Regions from separate parts of the Homo sapiens genome. Here region 2 is linked to region 1. Evidence: fine-mapped expression QTL. A gene starts in region 1. The other region holds a variant in brackets. All regions are shown on one strand. Distances are between the middles of the regions.

Region 1 (9,323 bases):
TGCGATCTCAGCTCACTGCAACCTCCGCCTCCCAGGTTCAAGTGATTCTCCTGCCACAGCCTCCCTCCCGAGTAGCTCGGACTACAGGCACGTGCCACCATGCCCGGCTAATTTTTTGTATTTTTAGTACAGACAGGGTTTCACCGTGTTGGCCAGGATGGTCTTGATATCCTCAGCTCATGATCTGTGCTGGGATTACAGGCGTAAGCCACCGTGCCTGGCCACAAAAAAATTTTTTTAAAGACTAAACACTCCAATCGTATGCCCACATCCAGCACCCACATCTAGAAAAAAAAATAAAAGCCCCCCCGTCCTGCTTCTCTACCCCAGAGAAACCACACATGAGCAATGCACACCCTGTCTCTTTATTAAAGCACTTTCATTCCTGGTGGTATCCTTGCTGGCTGAGGCTGGAGGGTCCTGTGATGAATCCAGAACACTTTGAAGGCTTCGGGATGATGCTGCTCATGACCAGGAGGTCCCCACAAACGGAAGTGGTTAACGAGTGGCAAAAGAGTAGTTTTGAGGCATGTTCTAGGGACAAAAAGGGGGAGGCATGAGAAGCCAAGAGCATCAAAGAGGGGTGGGCTCATCTTCCAAACTGACTGTTAGGAAGAGCTCCATAAAAGAGACAGAGCCTTTTCACTCTTTAGACCCAAGGCTCATGTCTTTTTTATTTTTCTCGAGACAGGTCTCCCTCTGTCAGCCAGGCTAGAGTGCAGTGGTGTAATCATATCTTCCTGCAGCCTCAACCTGGGCTCCAATGATCCTCCCACCTCAGCCTCCCGAGTAGCTGGGACCACAGCTGTGCACCACCATACCCGGCTAATTTTTTAAACCTCTTGATAGCAGGAACTCTGTTTCGTTCACTGCAACACCCCAGCCCCTCGAGCAGTGCTGGCACATAGTAAGTGCTTAATTTTTATTTATTTAATTTTTTGGAGACAGAGTCTCGATCTGTGGCCCAGGCTGGAGTGCAGTGGTGCAATCTCAGCTCACTGCAACCTCCACCTCCCGGGTTCAATCAAGTCTCTGCCTCAGCTTCTCAAGTAGCTGGGATTACAGGTGCGTGACACAATGCCTGGCTTTTTTTTTTTTTTTTTTTTTTGAGAAAGAGTCTTGCTCTGCAGCCCAGGCTGGAGTGCAGTGGTGTGATCTCGGCTCACTGCAACCTCCAACTCCTGGGTTCAAGCGATTCTCCTGCCTCAGCCTCCTGAGTAGCTGGGATTAGAGGTGCATACCACCAACCCAGCTAATTTTTGTATTTTTAGTAGAGACAGGGTTTCCCCATGTTGGCCAGGCTGGTCTCAAACTCCTGACCTCAGGTGATCTGCCCGCCTGGGCCTCCCAAAGTGCTGAGATTACAGGTGTGAGCCACCGCGCCTGACCTAACGTTTGTATTTTTAGTTAAGACAAGGTTTCACTATGTTGGCCAGGCTGATCTTGAACTCCTGACCTCATGATCCACCCGCCTTGGCCTCCCAAAGTGCTGGGATTACAGGTATGAGCCACCGCACCCAGCTCCTCCTACTATTTCTTTCTTTCTTTTCTTTTTTTTAAATTTTTCTTTTTGAGACAGGGTCTTGCACTGTCACTCAGGCTGGAATGCGGTGGCATGAACATGGTTCACTGCAGCCTCAACCTCCTAGGCTCAAGTGATCCTCTGGCCTCCGCCTCTCAAGTAGCTGAGACCACAGGTTCGTGCCACCACACCTGGCTAATTTTTTTAACTTTTTATAGAGATGGGGTCTCTCTATGTTGCCCAGGCTATTCTTGAACTCCTGGGCTCAAGCGATCCTCCCACCTCCCAAGTAACTGGGATCACAGGCACATGCCATCATGCCTGGGGTATCACCATGTTGCCCAGGCTGGTCTCAAACTCCTGGACGCAAGCGATCCTCCTGCTTCAGCTTCCCAAAGTGCTGGGATTACAGGCATAAGCGACCACACCCAGCCAGGAAAGTGTGTAAGGCTCTAAACAAGGCACATAAAGTCTCTTGAGTCCCCTCTTACCTTGCCTGTAGACTCCAGCTGCTAAACTGCTTCTCCCTGCCCTAAATACACACAGATGCTCACACTGGCTCTGCGAAGACTGCTCTTTGCCTTTGTTCATGCAACCCCAACTGCTTGAAAGACTCCTACTAACCTCTTTTTTTTTTAACCTGGAAAATTATTTCTTTTTTTTTTTGAGATGGTCTCACTGTCGCCCAGGCTGGAGTGCAGTGGTATGATCTCAGCTCACTGCAACCTCTGTCACCATGTTGACCAGGCTGGTCTCAAACTCCTGCCCTGAAGTGATCAGCCCACCTCAGCCTCCCAAAAATGCTGGGATTACAGGTGTGAGCCACTGCACCTGGTGGAAAATTATTTCTTTAGGTGCTACCTCCTTCAAGAAGCTCCAAAGCCTGTAATCCCAACACTATGGGAGGCCAAGGAGGGCGGATCATGAGGTCAGGAGATCAAGACCATCCTGGCTAACACGGTGAAACCCCGTCTCTACTAAAAATACAAAAAAATTAGTCGGGTGTGGTGGCGGGTGCCTGTAGTCCCAGCTACTTGGGAGGCTGAGGCAGGAGAATGGCGTGAACCCAGGAGGTGGAGCTTGCAGTGAGCTGAGATCACACCACTGCACTCCAGCCTGGGCAACAGAGCAAGACTCCGTCTCAAAAAAAAAAAGAAGAAGCTCCATGGCTCCTGTCCTTCCTGTCCAATTGAAGCTGGGATAAGAGTACTATCCCACTGTGTCCATTTCTATTATGGAAACTTATCCAGACTGTATTATAATTGGCCATTTCCTTGTCTGTCCCCACACTGAACTGTGAACTCTTCAAGGGCTGAGACTGTACCATTCATTTCAGTGTCCCAAGCTCCTAAGACAGGGACCAACATATAGTGCAAACTCAAAAGGTTTGGTTAATATCGAATAGCCTTGGCAGCCATGGACCCTGCATGTACCTTTTCACCAGGAGTTGGCAGGAGGTATGCCTTGCTGCAGGTACGGTTTCTGTCCGAGCAGGAGATGGTGGAAGAGAGGGGAGAGGGCTGAGAATTCAGAATTTGAGGATCAGGGCAGAATAGAATGGAAGTGCACGGTTCAAAAATTCCCCCACCCTGCTGGGATATTGTGAAACCCTCACTCTCTCCCCTCCAGGTTCCTCACCTCTCTCCCAGGACAAAGAGCATCTCCCTTGAAGCCTCACTCACCAGGTGTCTGTGCCTCAGGTCTTGGTGAAGAATGCTGGAAGTAGAGGACCTAGTCAGAGAAAGGACTATCCCCGTGGCCAGAAGAGATGCGGCCAGGGCAGACGGGGCTAAGGGGATTCTCGGCCAGCAGTGAGGAGTGGGTACTGGGTTAGCGGGTGAGAGGGGCATTTCACAGGTCCTAGGGCTGGCTGTGAGATGGATGAGATGGGCACAGACTCCTGGAGAGTTCAGCTAGGGGTGGGAGGGGTCAGGGACTGTAACCAGGCATAGTGGGGGCAGCGGTTCTCTAGACACGGTGGTCCTGAGGCAGGGGGTTACCGCGTTTGGATATCTGAGTCGCTTGGTCTTGTGACTGCTTTTTTTTGATGGGCACAGGGTTCAAGTGGCAGCAAGCAGTGCACAAAGCCTCCTCCATGAGTTCTGCACTGATCTGGGACAGGTATTCCTCAGAACGAGATAACGAAGCCTGGGAAAGGAAAAGCCGGAGGGGTTCAGCCTGGGAGCTCCCACATGGGAGTGCTGGCTGTGGGAGTTCCCAGGCTGGGGCCTGTGGGTCCAAGGAGCTTGCTCCTGAAGGACTGGGCCTTGAGATTTAGCTAGAAAGCTCTGGACCTGGGGGAGGGGGGTTTGGTGGGGGTTTAGAGTCAGGGCCTAGTGCTGAGAGCTATGAGTCGGGGCTTCAGGACTCAGGGTTGAGGCTAGAGTCTCAGGGCCCGTGGCTCAGACCTGGCACGGGGTGCCTCTGCCTGGGAGGCTTTCACTTCATTACATTCCCACCTCTAGGGTTCCCTGCAGTGCTCACCGGACCTCCTCTCAAGGAGGGTGCAGCTTGAGATGGCCAGCTGCTCTTCTTCTCCCCCTCATTCCCCATCGGAGTGGACGCCATCCCCCTGGGAACAGTCGAAGCCTGAGTTGACCTGAGAAACCAGCCCGCTTTCCCCCAGAACCCAGTCCACCACCATTCCCCGGGCCCAGGTTTAAACAAGGCCTTTAGAGGAAACATCCCGCTGCCTCATTCCCTCTCACAAGAAAAAATAATAATAATAATAAAGGTTGCTTTATATCTTCGGGAGTGAGAGGGAACTCCCGCAACCCCCTACCCCTCACCCCTTCGCCTGGTGGGCCTCTCCTTCCTTCTTCCCTCCCAAGCACCTTCCCAAGCCGAGGCAGCCGACTTGACGCCCCAGACCTGGCAGATGGGTGGAAACCTTGGGCTACTCGGCAAAAGGAGAGACGTGGAGGCCTAAGGACCTCTGGTATAGGTCGTGGGGGATGGAGAATGGGAGATGGGGAGGAAGGCTGGAAAAGGGGGAGCCGGCTCCGTGTCGCTACCGGACGCTATAAAACCCTTGGAGTCTGCAGAGGTTCCGCAGCCTCGTTGCTAGGAGATCAGGGGTTCTAGAACTAAAGACAGAGGAATTTCCTAGCGCGCCCCGTTTGCTCCTCCAGCCTCCCCTCCGTACCCCTCCAGGTGCCTCCTTGAGGGCAGTGACCCCAAGCGCCAGACGCTTGAGAAGCTTGGGAGGATGACGTAGGGTGGAGCCTGCGACCTAATCCTCCCATCACAAGGGGCACGCGAAAAGCAACCCATCTGCAGGGCGCTCTGGAGCCTCTCTAGCCGCCTAGAGCCTGCGAGAGCAAAGGCGGCTGGAGACTTAGGGGGCGGGGAGTAAAGTGAGGACTGCACCAAATCTCCTGGCCTCTTGGGGACGCAAAGACTCAGGAGGAGGAATTTTATCGCCTTATCTTTGCCTCCAGGAAGTCATACCCTCCACAAAAGGAAAGCAGAGATTTTTATTCGGTCTTCTCTTTTACCCTTTCCTTTTCCGTTTCTAACTTTGCTTGACGTTAATGGTTCCTTCCTCCCTCTCCTCCTCTGCGCTTTGGTACGAGCCAAGGGAGAGGGGCGGAGGGAGGAAAAGGGAAAGGAAGCCGACAGGCCTTAAAGGGGCCGCAACTATTTTTTTAAGCCACTTTTTCCTCTCTCCAATTTTGCAACGACGGGCGCGGAGGAGGAGGTTCCCGGAAGCCACGCGCAGCTGGAGCAGCGGCGACCGCAGCTGGAGGCCCGGAGCGCCTGCGGGGCTGGCAGAGGCGAGGGAGGTTGCGGGTAGGAAGGGCGGACTGCGCGCGCCCCCTGCGTCCCGCGCACCTCGGGGCCGGTCCATGCTCCCGACGGCTGCGGGCTTCAGCATCTGGGGCCAGGTTGGGGCGGCGGGGTCCAGGGCGCAGGTGGTGCGGCCGATGCGCCGGGCCGGAGGCTGAGGCCGCGCTGCGGGGCTGGGACAGCACTGGCATCTCCAGAGCAGGCCCGGGGCAGCAAGGGAGGCGCCGCGATGCCAGACGAAAATATCTTCCTGTTCGTGCCCAACCTCATCGGTGAGTGCTGCCCACGGCCCCGGGCCGAACGAGAGGGCGAGGGGCCTTGGCGGGCTCCCTGATCCTGCCCTGTCTCCCCGCGTCCCGTTCCAAGGTTATGCCCGGATTGTCTTCGCCATCATTTCTTTCTACTTCATGCCCTGCTGCCCCCTCACGGCCTCCTCCTTCTACCTGCTCAGCGGCCTGCTGGACGCTTTCGATGGACACGCTGCTCGCGCTCTTAATCAAGGTGACAGACACCCCTCTCAGCCAGCCTTGGGGTTCAACAATCCCCTCCTCCCTTCCCCTGCCTCCTCGGGACCTCAGAGTCAGAGGGCTGTCATTCCCATCTCTGGAAAAAGCAGAACAGGATGGCCTGGGGCTTTTTGTTTTGTGTTTTGTTTTTTTGTTTTTGAGACAGGGTCTCGCTCTGTCACTTAGGCTGGAGTGCAGTGGCGCGATCATGGCTCACTGCAGCCCCCATCTTCTGGGCTCAAGTAATCCTCCCACCTCAGCCTCCTGACTAGCTGGGACTACAGGAGCGTGCCACCACACCCGGCTAATTTTTAAATTTTTGTAGAGACTGGGTCTTGCAGTGTCGCCCAGATTGGTCCCCAGCTCCTAGCCTCAAGCGATCCTCCTGCCTTGCTCCCAAAGTGCCGCGCCCAGCAAGAATGGACTGATTTTGTAGCAAAAGGAATTTAAGCTAGCTCTTGAGAACTCACTGCTTGTGAGAGGTGTGGATTAGCAAGACATGACATGGCGGTGGCGCTGCTGGAGGTCTCTCTGAATACAAGTCCATTCAGGCCAGGGGCGGTGGCTCACGCCTGTAATCCCAGCACTTTGGGAGGCCGAGGTGGGTGGATCACGAGTTCAGGAGTTCGAGACCAGCCTGGCCAACATGGTGAAACCCTGTCTCTACTAAAAATACAAAAATTAGCGGGCTTGGTGACGCGTGCCTGTAATCCCAGCTACTCGGGAGGCTAAGGCAGGAGAATTGCTTGAACCCGGGAGGCGGAGGTTGCAGTGAGCCAAGATTGCGCCATTGCACTCCAGCCTGGGCGACAGAGCAAGACTCTGTCTCGGAAAAAAAAAAACAAAAAACAAAAAACAGTGTATTCAACAGGTGTTTACTGGAGGCCTACTGTGTGCCCTGCATAAGCAGTTGGGGTTCCAGAAGGCATGCTTAGAGGGAGGATGGAGAGGGAAGGGTGATGGCTTCTGGAGGGTTGACTAATTTTTTAATCTGTTCTCCAGACCCAACTGTAAGGCTTCCCCTGAGGCATCAAGTCTCTATCTAGCCCTGGAGTCTTGGTTCTGGGGTTGATGAGTTGCAGACATAGCTTTCCTCTCCTCCTACCCTGTTCCCTCCACTCTCATGCCTTTCTCAGTTCATGCCATGGTGACCTTTGCCCACTGACCTCACACACAGCCTGTTTTCTAGCCTGCGTTCCTCCCCAGGCAGGCGGACACTTCCAGTCTTCGTTTACACCCTGCGTCAGAGTGATAAACCAAATATGGGCACCTGTCCTGCATCCACTGTGCCATAACAGCCCTTGCCCACCTAATCTTCCAGGAACCCGGTTTGGGGCCATGCTGGACATGCTGACGGACCGCTGCTCCACCATGTGCCTGTTGGTCAACCTGGCCCTGCTGTACCCTGGAGCCACGCTGTTCTTCCAAATCAGCATGAGTTTGGATGTGGCCAGTCACTGGCTGCACCTCCACAGGTCTGCTGCGATTCTGGGGGCCTGGGCCACTTGGAGACATTACAGTGGGGTGGGCTGAGCCTAGACGGAAGGGTGTCTGGGATGGCACTAGGCATCCTGGAAGGGCTCCTTTTTAGCTCTGCTTTGTAGAAAGACCCCAGGCAAACCTGCCTCTCTTTAAAGCTTCAGTCATGTTTACAGTTGCATTAAGCAATTCTTAGGACTCTTCTGGCTGGGTATTCTAGGATTCCATATAGGTGACAGCTTATAGGAAGGGGCATGGGAGCTTTCAAATGTGGCATTTGAATCCTGACTCTGCCCCCAAATAGGTAACTGTGGCTTTCGGCAGGATACTGGTCCTTAGCCGTGCCCAGTTTTCCATCTGTACAATAGGTGTTAACATGAGGATTGGATGCATGGTAGTGGTCATGAAACCTTGTGGGTTCCCCTGTTTTCTCCCCAAGTTCTGTGGTCCGAGGCAGTGAGAGTCACAAGATGATCGACTTGTCCGGGAATCCGGTGCTTCGGATCTACTACACCTCGAGGGTAAGCATTTCCTGCACACCCCACCCCTCAGGCTCTTGGCTGTGGGAAGCCCTGGGCTGAATCCTGGTCCTAGCCTAGGAGAAGGCGAGGGCGCAGAGCAGGGCCTGCCCAGTCACTCCAGGAGGAGGGCCCGTAAGCTGAGGCGTGGAGGAGGAGGATTGGTGGGGAAGGCCTGTGTGAATTACTCCAGGGAACAAGTGGGAATGAGGCCTGCAAAGAGAAGGGACTGAAAGCGGGAAGGGAGATAAGCCAGAGAGGTCTGCAGGGCTGGAGTGTGGACTTGATTCCAGGAACACAGGCAGCCTCTGGAAGGATTTTTAAAAAGATAATGGCTGGGCATGGTGGCTCATGCCTGTAATCCCAGCGCTTTGGGAGGCTGAGGTGGGAGGATTGCTTGAGGCCAGGAGTTTGAGACCAGCCTGGGCAACAAAGTGAGACTCTGTTTCCACACACACACAAAATCTTGAATTAGCTTAGCCAGGCACAGTGGTACACGCCTGTAGTCTCTACTTAGGAGGCTAAGGTGGAAGGATTGCGTGAGACCAAGGGTTTATTTATTTATTTATTTATTTTTTTGAGACAGAGTCCTGCTCTGTCACCCAGGCTGGAGTTCAGTGGCGGGTTATCGGCTCACTGCAACCTCTGCCTGCTGGGTTCAAGCGATTCTTGTGCCTCAGCCTCCTGAGTGGCTGGGACTACCGGCACGTGCCACCACACTCGGCTAATTTTTGTATTGTTAGTAGAGAGGGGTTTCGCCACGTTGGCCAGGCTGGTCCCAAACTCCTGACCTCAGGTGATCCGCCTGTCTCAGCCTCCCAAAGTGCTGGGACTCCAGGCATGAGCCACACGCCTGGCTGAGACCAGGAGTTTTGAGGCTGCAGTGCTATGATCATACTACTGCATTCCAACCTGGATGAGAGAGCGAGACCCTGTCTGTAAAAAAGAAAAAAAAATAAGAGAAGTAATATGCCGAGATTGTGCCTTCATTAGTGCTGGGGGGGCAGGGGGTGGCACACGCCTGCCTCTTGCTAACGTGGCCTGTTTGCTGTGTGTGCAGCCTGCTCTGTTCACCTTGTGTGCTGGGAATGAGCTCTTCTACTGCCTCCTCTACCTGTTCCATTTCTCTGAGGGACCTTTAGGTAGGAGATGAGGGGCTGGGCAGGAGGATGGGAGGGGGATCTGGCCTGCCCAGGGAGATGGAGGCCCCCTCCTTCGGGCCCCAAACTCCCCTGCTGCCTTCCTGCAGTTGGCTCTGTGGGACTGTTCCGGATGGGCCTCTGGGTCACTGCCCCCATCGCCTTGCTGAAGTCGCTCATCAGCGTCATCCACCTGATCACGGCCGCCCGCAACATGGCTGCCCTGGACGCAGCAGACCGCGCCAAGAAGAAGTGACGCTGGAGCCCCGGGTCCTGGCTGCCCACCTGCCCTGGGAGTCTTGCTGTGCCACACAGCTCCCCACCCCCTGCTAGGAGGTCCCAGTCTCACGCCTTCCTCATGTGTTGTTCT
Region 2 (9,753 bases), 810 kb after region 1:
TTTATGTAAAGGGACAGGAAACAGCAACAGATGACATAGATATAGGATGATTCCAGTCTAGTAATAAATATACACACACCAGAAAGAGAGGCATTAAAATGTTAACGGTAGTTAACAGCCTGGGCGACAGAGCGGAGACCCTGTCTCAAAAAAAAAAAAAAAAAGTTAAGAAAAGGAGTGACAATCCACGTGTGGCCCACAAAGCTTAAAATATATACTATCTAGCCCTGGGCAGAAAAGGGTTTGACAATGCTGTTCAAAGGTCACCATTGGTAGATTGGAAACTGAAAAAGGTATATACCCTGGCATTGGACAACACAATGGCTGTGCCTCCTGCCTAAGAATGCTGAACTGGCCAAGTGAGGTACTTGGCAGCCCAGCCCTGAAATGCATAAGCTCTCCAGCCTTTTCATCACTGCTCCTCCCTGGTTCTTAACCTCTGGCCACTCGATCCTCTGGCTTCCCTTCCACCAAGCACTCGCACGTTGAGTCCAGTCCCTAGGCCTCTCCTCTAGGCTGCCCCCTCTGGAAATGTAAGCAGCACCAGGTATAAGAGCCAGGCACAGGCTGCCTTGACGTGCACCTAGCCCCCTTACTTCCCCATTGTGTGGAAGGTAAATCACTTCTCTTTGGGTCTGTTTTCCCATCTACAAGTTGGGAATGACAATAGGGTTATTCTGAGATTAAGTGAGATAAGGCAGCTAAAGCACGCAGTATGGAAGTGGTCAACATGCTGGCTCTGATGTCAGCCACGACCAGACTTCGGGTAACTATTTATAAGTCATTCCCTTCAAAACCTTTCTCTCTGTTCTTTCTCTTCTGTGACAGACTAATACTTGTGCCCCTTCCCTTCATTTAGAAACAAAATGACCCAAGTTTAAATGAACATGTAACTATCCAGCTAGAGGCATTTTAGTCTCGCATATAGGGTGGTAAGAAGGTGAGACTAAGTTCTGGCCAATGGGATCAGTGTAATTTCCAGGCCCTGTATTTCCGCTTCCTTTTGCATGGGCTTGAACGAGGACTTGGGGCTGGTGAGCCGCTTTAACCACACAGATGACAACCTTGGGGATGCAAGAGCAACATGACAGCGCAGCCCTGGGTCCCTAGATGATTTTGCATAACGGTTGTTGTCTAACCCTAACCCTGGACCAATCACCTCTGAACTGTCACATGAGAAATAAGCTATTTTGCTGAGTCACTGTTTGGGGCTCCTTGTGACAGAAGCTGAGTCTAGAATCTAGTTAGTGCACGTCAGAAGGCTTCTCTTCAACTTCAGTATCAGTCCGCCCTCCATATGTGCTGTTCTTGTACTTCTGAACACAAAGAATATTCCAGCTATTTCTTGAAAACAGTCATATTTGTTTATCCTCCAGTCAGGAGAATGTGTCATTCTTGACTCCTTCAACTCCCGAATCCACTGGTCACAGTAGCTTCAGTTTTTTACATCTGCACCTCTTCAATCCTCCCCCCACCTCTGACCCCAGGCACCCTGACTTCAGATGGTTTTTTTTTTTTTTTGGGCTTCATGCTCTTTGCTTCCAATTTCATAGTCTTACACAATGATGCTTCATTCTCTTAAAATGGAATCCATTCATGTTATTTTGTTACCTTTTTTTAGAGACAGGGTCTTGCTCTATTCCCCAGGCTGGAGTGCAGTGGTATAATCATAGCTCACTGTACCCTTTACTTAAATAGACCTTAAGTTCCTGGGCTCAAGTGATCCTCCTGCCTCAGTCTCCCCAGCAGCTTGGACTACTGGCACACACAACCATGTCCGGCTAAATTTTAATTTTTTGTCCTCTCCCTCCCCCTCCCCCTTCCTCTCCCACTTTCCACAGTCTCCCTCTGATGCCGAGCCGAGGCTGGACTGTACTGCCACCATCTCGGCTCACTGCAACCTCCCTGCCTCATTCTCCTGCCTCAGCCTGCCAAGTGCCTGGGATTGCAGGCACGCGCCATCTGTGTTTTTTGGTGGAGACGGGGTTTCGCCGTGTTGGCCGGGCTGGTCTCCAGCTCCTGACCGCTAGTGATCCGCCAGCCTCGGCCTCCCGAGGTGCTGGGATTGCAGACGGAGTCTCCTTCACTCAGTGCTCAATGGTGCCCAGGCTGGAGTGCAGTGGCATGATCTCGGCTCGCTACAACCTCCACCTCTCAACCGCCTGCCTTGGCCTCCCAAAGTGCCGAGATTGCAGCCTCTGCCCAGCCGCCACCCCGTCGGGGAAGTGGGGAGCGTCTCTGCCTGGCCGCCCATCATCTGGGATGTGAGGAGCCCCTCTGCCTGGCTGCCCAGTCTGGAAAGTGAGGAGCCTCTCTGCCCGGCCGCCATCCCATCTAGGAAGTGAGGAGCGCCTCTTCCCGGCCGCGACCCCGTCTGGGAGGTGAGGAGCGTCTGAGAAGTGAGGAGACCCTCTGCCTGGCGACCGCCCCGTCTGAGAAGTGAGGAGCCCCTCCGCCCGGCAGCCGCCTCGTCTGAGAAGTGAGGAGCCCCTCCGCCCGGCAGCCACCCCGTCTGGGAAGTGAAGAGCGTCTCCGCCCGGCAGCCACCCCGTCCGGGAGGGAGGTGGGGGTCAGCCCCCCCGCCCGGCCAGCCGCCCCGTCTGGGAGGGAGGTGGGGGAGTCAGCCCCCCCGCCCGGCCAGCCGCCCCACCCGGGAGGGAGGTGGGGGGATCAGTCCCCCGCCCAACCAGCCGCCCCACCCGGGAGGGAGGTGGGGGGGTCAGCCCCCCACCCGGCCAGCCGCCCTGTCCGGGAGGTGAGGGGCGACTCTGCCCGGCCGCCCCTACTGGGAAGTGAGGAGCCCCTCTGCCCGGCCGCCACCCCGGCTGGGAGGTGTGCCCAACAGCTCATTGAGAACGGGCCATGATGACAGTGGCGGTTTTGTGGAATAGAAAGGGGGGAAAGGTGGGGAAAAGATTGAGAAATCGGATGGTTGCCGTGTCTGTGTAGAAGGAAGTAGACATGGGAGACTTTTCATTTTGTTCTGTAGTAAGAAAAATTCTTCTGCCTTGGGATCCTGTTGATCTGTGACCTTACCCCAACCCTGTGCTCTCTGAAACATGTGCTGTGTCCACTCAGGGTTAAATGGATTAAGGGTGGTGCAAGATGTGCTTTGTTAAACAGATGCTTGAAGGCAGCATGCTCGTTAAGAGTCATCACCACTCCCTAATCTCAAGTACCCAGGGACACAAACACTGCAGAAGGCCGCAGGGTCCTCTGCCTAGGAAAACCAGAGACCTTTGTTCACTTGTTTATCTGCTGACCTTCCCTCCGCTATTGTCCTATGACCCTGCCAAATCCACCTCTGCGAGAAACACCCAAGAATGATCAATAAAAAAAAAAAAAAAAAAAAAAAAAAACATGGTTTCTCCATGTTGGTCAGGCTGGTCTGGAACTCCTGACTTCAGGTGATCTGCCCACCTTGGCCTCCCAAAGTGCTGGGATTACAGGCATGAGCCACTGTGCCTGGCCCCAAATGTGTTTTACATTTTCTTCCTATTTGATTCATCTTTGTCCTGCAACATAAATATGCTACTTTTCCACCGATAAAAAGACAAAATGGAATTTAAATCTGGCCTGGACTTCTCAAAAAAGTCAGTGTGATGAAAACATGTTCTAGATAAAACAGAAATGAGACTGGGCATGGTGGCTCATGCCTGGAATCCCAGCGCCTTCGGAGGCCAAGGCAGGAGAATCACTTGAGGCCAGGAGTTTGTGAACAGCCTGGGCAACATAGTGAGACCCCAGATCTACTAAAAATTTAAAAATTAGCTGGGCATGGTGGTGCATGCCCATATGTCTGGAGGCTGAGGCAGGAGGATCGCTTGAGCCCAGGATTTGGAGGCTGCAGTGAGCTATGATTGTGCCACTGCACTCCAGTGTGGGTGACAGAGTGAGACCCTGTCTCTAAAAAAAAAAAGAGAGACGAGATGATCAGGATGAGCGCAGTGGCTCACGCCTATAATCCCAGCACTTTGGGAGGCCAAACCAGGTGGATCATATGAGGTCAGGAGTTCAAGACCAGCCTGGCCTAGATGGTGAAACCCCGTTTCTACTAAAAATACAAAAATCAGCTGGGTGTGGTGGCGCACACCTGTGATCCCAGCTACTCGGGAGGCTGAGGCGGGACAATTGCTTGAACCTGGGAGGCAGAAGTTGCTGTGAGCAAGATTACACCACTGTGCTGCAGCCTGGGCAACAGGAATGAGACTCTGTCTCAAAAAAAAAAAAAGGGGGGGATGATCAAACACAATGCATCAACCTCCCGGAGCCATATAAACCCTAACCCTAACCCAGGAAGCAGGCAAGCCTGTGTGTGAGTTTCCACTCTATTGCTGGTACCACTCGGCTCTGGCAACCCAGAAGGCCA[C/T]CTTCCCCTGTTGTTACTGTGTAAGGAGGAAGGAGCACTGGTTTGCAAGTCAGAAGCCTGGGTTGAAGCCTCTGCTTGGGTTCCTGCTGGCTGTGGGAATGTGGGGTTACCTTTCCCAGCTGGCCTCGTTTCCTTCATGTCCAATGCAGGGGTTCCAGTCACATGCGTTGGGCACCATTACATGTCCAAGCTGTGCCAGGATCTAGAAAAATGGCTGGACTCAGGCCAAGGGGCCTTCCTGTCTGGCAGTGAAAATAAGAGGAGATACCAAGGGCCCTGAGTCTGGAGGGGAAGTCATGAGCACAGGGCAGTGCCAGGGCCCGGGAGCTGCCACAGAGGAGCCCACCTTGGTGACAGACACCTGTAGGCACATCCGTGATGCCCAGTGCCCAACACAGGGAACTGGACAAACGTTTCATGCACGACTCTTTTTTCCCTTCTTGGCTACCTTGAGGACCTTGATTATAATAGTTATCCTTTTTTTCTTTTTCTTTTTTTGAGACTCTTGCTCTGTCGTCCAGGTTGGAATGCAGTGGCAAAATCTTGGCTCACTGCAATCTTCACCTCTCAGGTTCAAGTGACTCTCCTTCCTCAGCCTCCCTAGTAGCTGGGATTACCGGTGTGCACCACTAGGCTCAGCTAATTTTTGTATTTTTACTACAGATGGGGTTTCACCATGTTGGCCAGGCTGATCTTGAACTGCTGACCTCAGGTGATCTGCCCACCTGGGCCTCCCAAAGTCTTGGGATTACAGGTGTGAGCCACTGAGCCCAGCCGGATTATAATAGCCTTTTCATGCACCAGGGGCTTTATACTCATTATCTCATTTCATTCATATGAGTTGAAGTCAGCTTATCCCCCATTTCACAGATGAGGAAACCAAGGCCCAGAGAGGTTAGGAATTCGTCCAAGGTCACACAGCTAGGAAGTAGGATTCAAACCCAGACAGCCAGGCTGTAACACCTAGGCTCTTCTCAGGCTCATGCCCTTCCCAGGGGTCTGGGAAGCCCTGACCTGCAGCCTGTCACCTTTGTTTACCCCCCAGCCTCCAGGATATTATGTGTGCACCGGCGTGGGATCCTGGAACTGGCAGGAATTGTGGGTTGTGTTGGTCCCTAGACTCCCATCGCCTATACGAAATATGGTTCCTTTTGTGGCTTGGGAGGCCATGGCCAGCCCTGCGATGCCATTGACTGGTGAGTGCATGCCTGGGACCAGGCTACAAAATCCCTCACACTCTGGGGTAGTCAAGGCTTATGAGGAAGTACCCAAAACTGAAGCTGGGATTTGGTCCAGGGAGATCCCAGTGTGCAGTACTACTTTGCAGGCAGGCAGAGGCCTCTTGGATAACATGGCCAGTGAAGCCAGATCTTGGTACCAGCTGCCCCTTACCCTGGCCATGGGCTGAAAACGTTGCCTTAAAAAATTGGCCAGGAGCGGTGGCTAACTCCTGTAATCCCAGCACTTTGGGAGGCCGAGGTGGGCAGATCACTTGAGGTCAGGAGTTCAAGACCAGCCTGGCCAATATGGTGAAACCCCATCTCTACTAAAAATGCAAAAATTAGCTGTGTGTGGTGGCAGGCGTCTGTAATCTCAGCTACTCGGGAGACTGAGGCAGGAGAATTGCTTGAACCCGGGAGGTGGAGTTTGCAGTGAGTTGAGATTGCACCGCTGTATTCCAACCTGGACAACAGTGCCAAACCCTGTCTCAAAAGAAAAAAATAATAATAATATAAAGTGGCCAGGTGTGTTGACTCATGCCTGTAATCCCACCACTTTGGGTCGAGGCAGGAGGATCACTGGAGCCCAGGAGTTTGAAACGAGCCTAGGCAACAGAGTGAGACCCTGTCTCTATATTAAACACAAACACAAACACACACACACACACACACACACACACACACACACACACAAACAAACAAAGGCAGCCAGACTATGCACTAGGAACTGCCCTGGGAATCCCTTTGTGTTCTCACAACAATCCCATTTCACAGATGAAGAAACCTAGGCACAGAAATATTCAGTAACGTGTCCAGGTGCGGTGGCTCACGCCTGTAATCCCAGTACTTTGGGAGGCTGAGGCAGGCAGATCACGAGGTCAGGAGTTCGAGACCATCCTGGCCAACATGGTGAAACCCTGTCTCTACTAAAAATACAAAAATTAGCTGGATGTGGTGGCAGGTTCCTGTAATTCCAGCTACTCAGGAAGCTGAGGCAGGAGAATTGCTTGAACCCGGGAGGCGGAGGTTGCAGTGAGCCGAGATCACACCACTGCACTCCAGCCTGGGTGACAGAGCAAAACTCCGTCTGAAAAAAAAAAAAAAAAGAAGAAGAAGAAATACTAAGTAACTTGTCTGAGGCCACTTAGTTACCAAGACGTGGGAGCTGGGACTTGAACCCAGGCAGTCTGCAGTCTGACTGGATTCATGCCTGCAGCCTCTGCACTCCTGCTACTTACTGTGTGAGAAGCGCCTGTTCTGTGGAAGGTTGTGGGCTGAGATCTTTCCATGAGTTCCACTCATTTACCCCCAAGGCTGTTCTTAAAGACGGGCATGACAGTTATGCCCATTTTACAGATGGGGCCCTGAGGCTCACAGGGGCATGCCACTCACCCATTTCCACAAAGCTATAGTTAGTTAGCAGAGGGCAGAATTCGGCCGCCTCTCCCCTAGCTTGAAGGCTGTGATTGACACAGAGGTTTTTTTGTTGTGGCTGTTGTTTGTTCCTTTTTCTTTTTTTTGAGACAGGGTCTTGCTCTGTCATCCCGGCTGGAGTGCAGTGGTGCGATGTCAGCTCACTGCAAACTCTGCCTCCAAGATGCAAATGATTCTCGTGCCTCAGCCTCCCAAGTAGCTGGAATTACAGGTGTGCACTACCACGCCCAGCTGTTTTTTGTAGAGATGGGGTTAGTAGAGATTTGTTTTATAGAGACGGGGTTTCACCATGGTCTCTACTAAACCCTGTCTCTACTAAAAATACAAAAATTACCCAGGCGTGGTGGCACATGCCTGTAGTCCCAGCTACTCAAGAGGCTGAGGCAGGAGAATCACTTGAACCTGGGAGGTGGAGGTTGCAGTGACCCAAAATCATGCACTCTAGCCTGGGGTCTCGCTTTTGCCCAGGTTAGAGTGCAGTGGCACAATCATAGTGGCTCACTGCAGCCTCAAACTCCTGGGCTGGAGGGAATCCTCCCACCTCAGCCTCCCAAGTAGCTAGGACTATAGGCATGTGCCATCATGGCGAGTTAATTTTTTGTGTGTTTTTATTGTCTTGAGACAGAGTCTTGCTCTGTTGCTCAGGCTGGACTGCAGTGGCATGATCTTGGCTCACCGCAACCTCCACCTCCTGGGTTCAAGCAACTCTCCTACCTCAGCCTCCCGAGTAGCTGGGATTACAGGTGCGTGCCACCATGCCTGGCTAATTTTGTATTTTTAGTAGAGACAGGGTTTCACCATGTTGGTCAGGCTGCTCTCGAACTCCTGACCTCGTGATCCACCTGCCTCGGCCTCTCAAAGTGTTGGGATTACAGGCATGAGCCACTGAGCCTGGCCTGGTGAGCTAATTTTTAAATTTGTTATAGAGACAAGAGTCTCTCTTATGTTGCTCAGGCTGGTCTCGACCCCCTGGCCTCAAGTGATCCTCCCACCTCAGCCTCCCAAAGTGCTGGGATTACAGATGGGTGTCACCGCACCTGGCCTCTGAGGAGGATTTCATTATAAACCTGCCCTGAAGGGAGGGAATCCAATTTTACGAGAGGGTGTAACCTGGTGAGGCCTGGATGACCTCCGGAGGCAGGGGCTTGTGCCTGGGCTGAGGCCTAAGGGACAATGGGCAGACATGAAGTTGCCCCAGGCAGAGGGTACAGTGTGGGCAAGGTCAGGAAGTGGCAGGGCTTGGATCACTCCAGGAAGAGAGAGGAGTCATGTGTCACAGGAGCTCGAGACCCAGAGAGTGAGGCAGGCAGGCAGGGACCAAGCTTGGGCACAGCCAGGAAGGCAGGACAGGGCATGGTGGGGCCAATGGAATCATTATCGAAGTCGGGGATTTTCAGGGAAACAGCTTAGATAAGGCCAGGCGTACAGTAGCTCCCACCTGTAATCCCAGCATTTGGGGAGGCTGAGGTAGGAGGACTGCTTGAGCCTGGGAGTTCGAGACCAGCCTAGGCAACATAGACCCCATATCCACAAAAAATTTAAAAAAGGAGTTTGTGTTCCTGTAGTAGCATACTTGGGAGGTTGAGGTGGCAGTATCACTTGAGCCCGGGAGTTCAAGGCTAAAGTGAGCTGATGGAGCCATTGCACCCCAGCCTGAGCAACAGAGAGATACGCTGTCTCAAAGGAAATACAAATTAAAAAACCAGCCGGGCATGCTGGCGTGTGCCTGTAGTCTCAGCTACTTGGGACACTGAAGTAGGAGGATCGCTTGAGCCCAGGAGTTCAAGGCTGCCGTGAGCTATGATTGTGCCTCTGCAGTCCAGCCTGGGCGACAGAGAAAGACCCTGTCTCTTAAAAAAAAAAAAAAAAAAAAAAAAAAAAAAAAAAAAACTTAGATAAGAGGATGCTGTGCCTCCCTGGGGGTCTTCAGTCACCCATGGTCCTGGCAAGAGAGGAGGGCCAGGAGAGAGCTTCACCCACCTGCTGTCCTGCCCATGTGACATCCGCAGGTGCTGCCATGGCCACGACTGTTGTTACACTCGAGCTGAGGAGGCCGGCTGCAGCCCCAAGACAGAGCGCTACTCCTGGCAGTGCGTCAATCAGAGCGTCCTGTGCGGTGAGTCCCCAGCAGCACCATGCCACCCACCCCGAGTATCCCCTGGGCACCCTGGCATAGCCAGATGACTTCCGTGCCCGTTGCAATAACCACTGCTTCCAACTCTCTATAGAACACCCCTTGGGTATATCTAATGTAAGTGATATTTATTTTATTTATTTTTTGAGTCAGAGTCTCGCTCTGTCACCCAGGCTAGAGTGTGCTGACGTGATCTTGGCTCACTACAACCTCTGCCTCCTGGGTTCAAGCGATTCTCATGCCTCAGCCTCCCAAGTGGCTGGGACTACAGGCATGCACCATCACGCCCAGCTAATTTTTGTATGTTTTTCAGTAGAGGTGGGGTTTCACCAAGTTGGCCGGGCTGGTCTCAAACTCCCCACCTCAAGTGCTCTGCCCGCCTCGGCCTCCCAAAGTGCTGGGATTACAGGCATGAGTCGTGGTGTCTGGCCCTAATGTGAGTGATCTTTAACAATGAGGACTTGAAAAAGAAAACCCTGAAGAAACCTAATTCTTTGATGTCTGGACGACAAGGAAGAAGATAGAAATGGCATCAGATAATAAACAGTGTAAATGTTTATCAGAAAGAGGCTGGTGGTCGGGACCAGTAGGAGGAT

What was found. PIP is the estimated chance that this variant, and not a neighbour inherited with it, causes the effect.
Region 2: its variant is fine-mapped to the expression of CDIPT in whole blood (GTEx, PIP 0.95).

Annotation. Positions count from the first base shown.
Region 1 is chr16:29,859,075-29,868,397 of GRCh38, reverse strand. CDIPT (CDP-diacylglycerol--inositol 3-phosphatidyltransferase) reads left to right here and starts at 5,172. Exons shown (of 6, transcript NM_006319.5): 1 at 5,172-5,583; 2 at 5,678-5,812; 3 at 7,139-7,292; 4 at 7,736-7,817; 5 at 8,875-8,956; 6 at 9,064-9,323. The coding sequence starts at 5,541. The coding sequence ends at 9,209. It also overlaps the pseudogene CDIPTOSP. RefSeq lists enhancers at 4,514-5,051, 7,207-7,745 and silencers at 5,100-5,159, 5,170-5,479.
Region 2 is chr16:29,053,120-29,062,872 of GRCh38, reverse strand. It overlaps the pseudogene PLA2G10CP. Among named protein-coding and RNA genes, the nearest start is that of LAT, 73 kb to the right of the region's middle. RefSeq lists a silencer at 939-1,139. The variant C/T (reference allele first, on the strand shown) is at 4,370.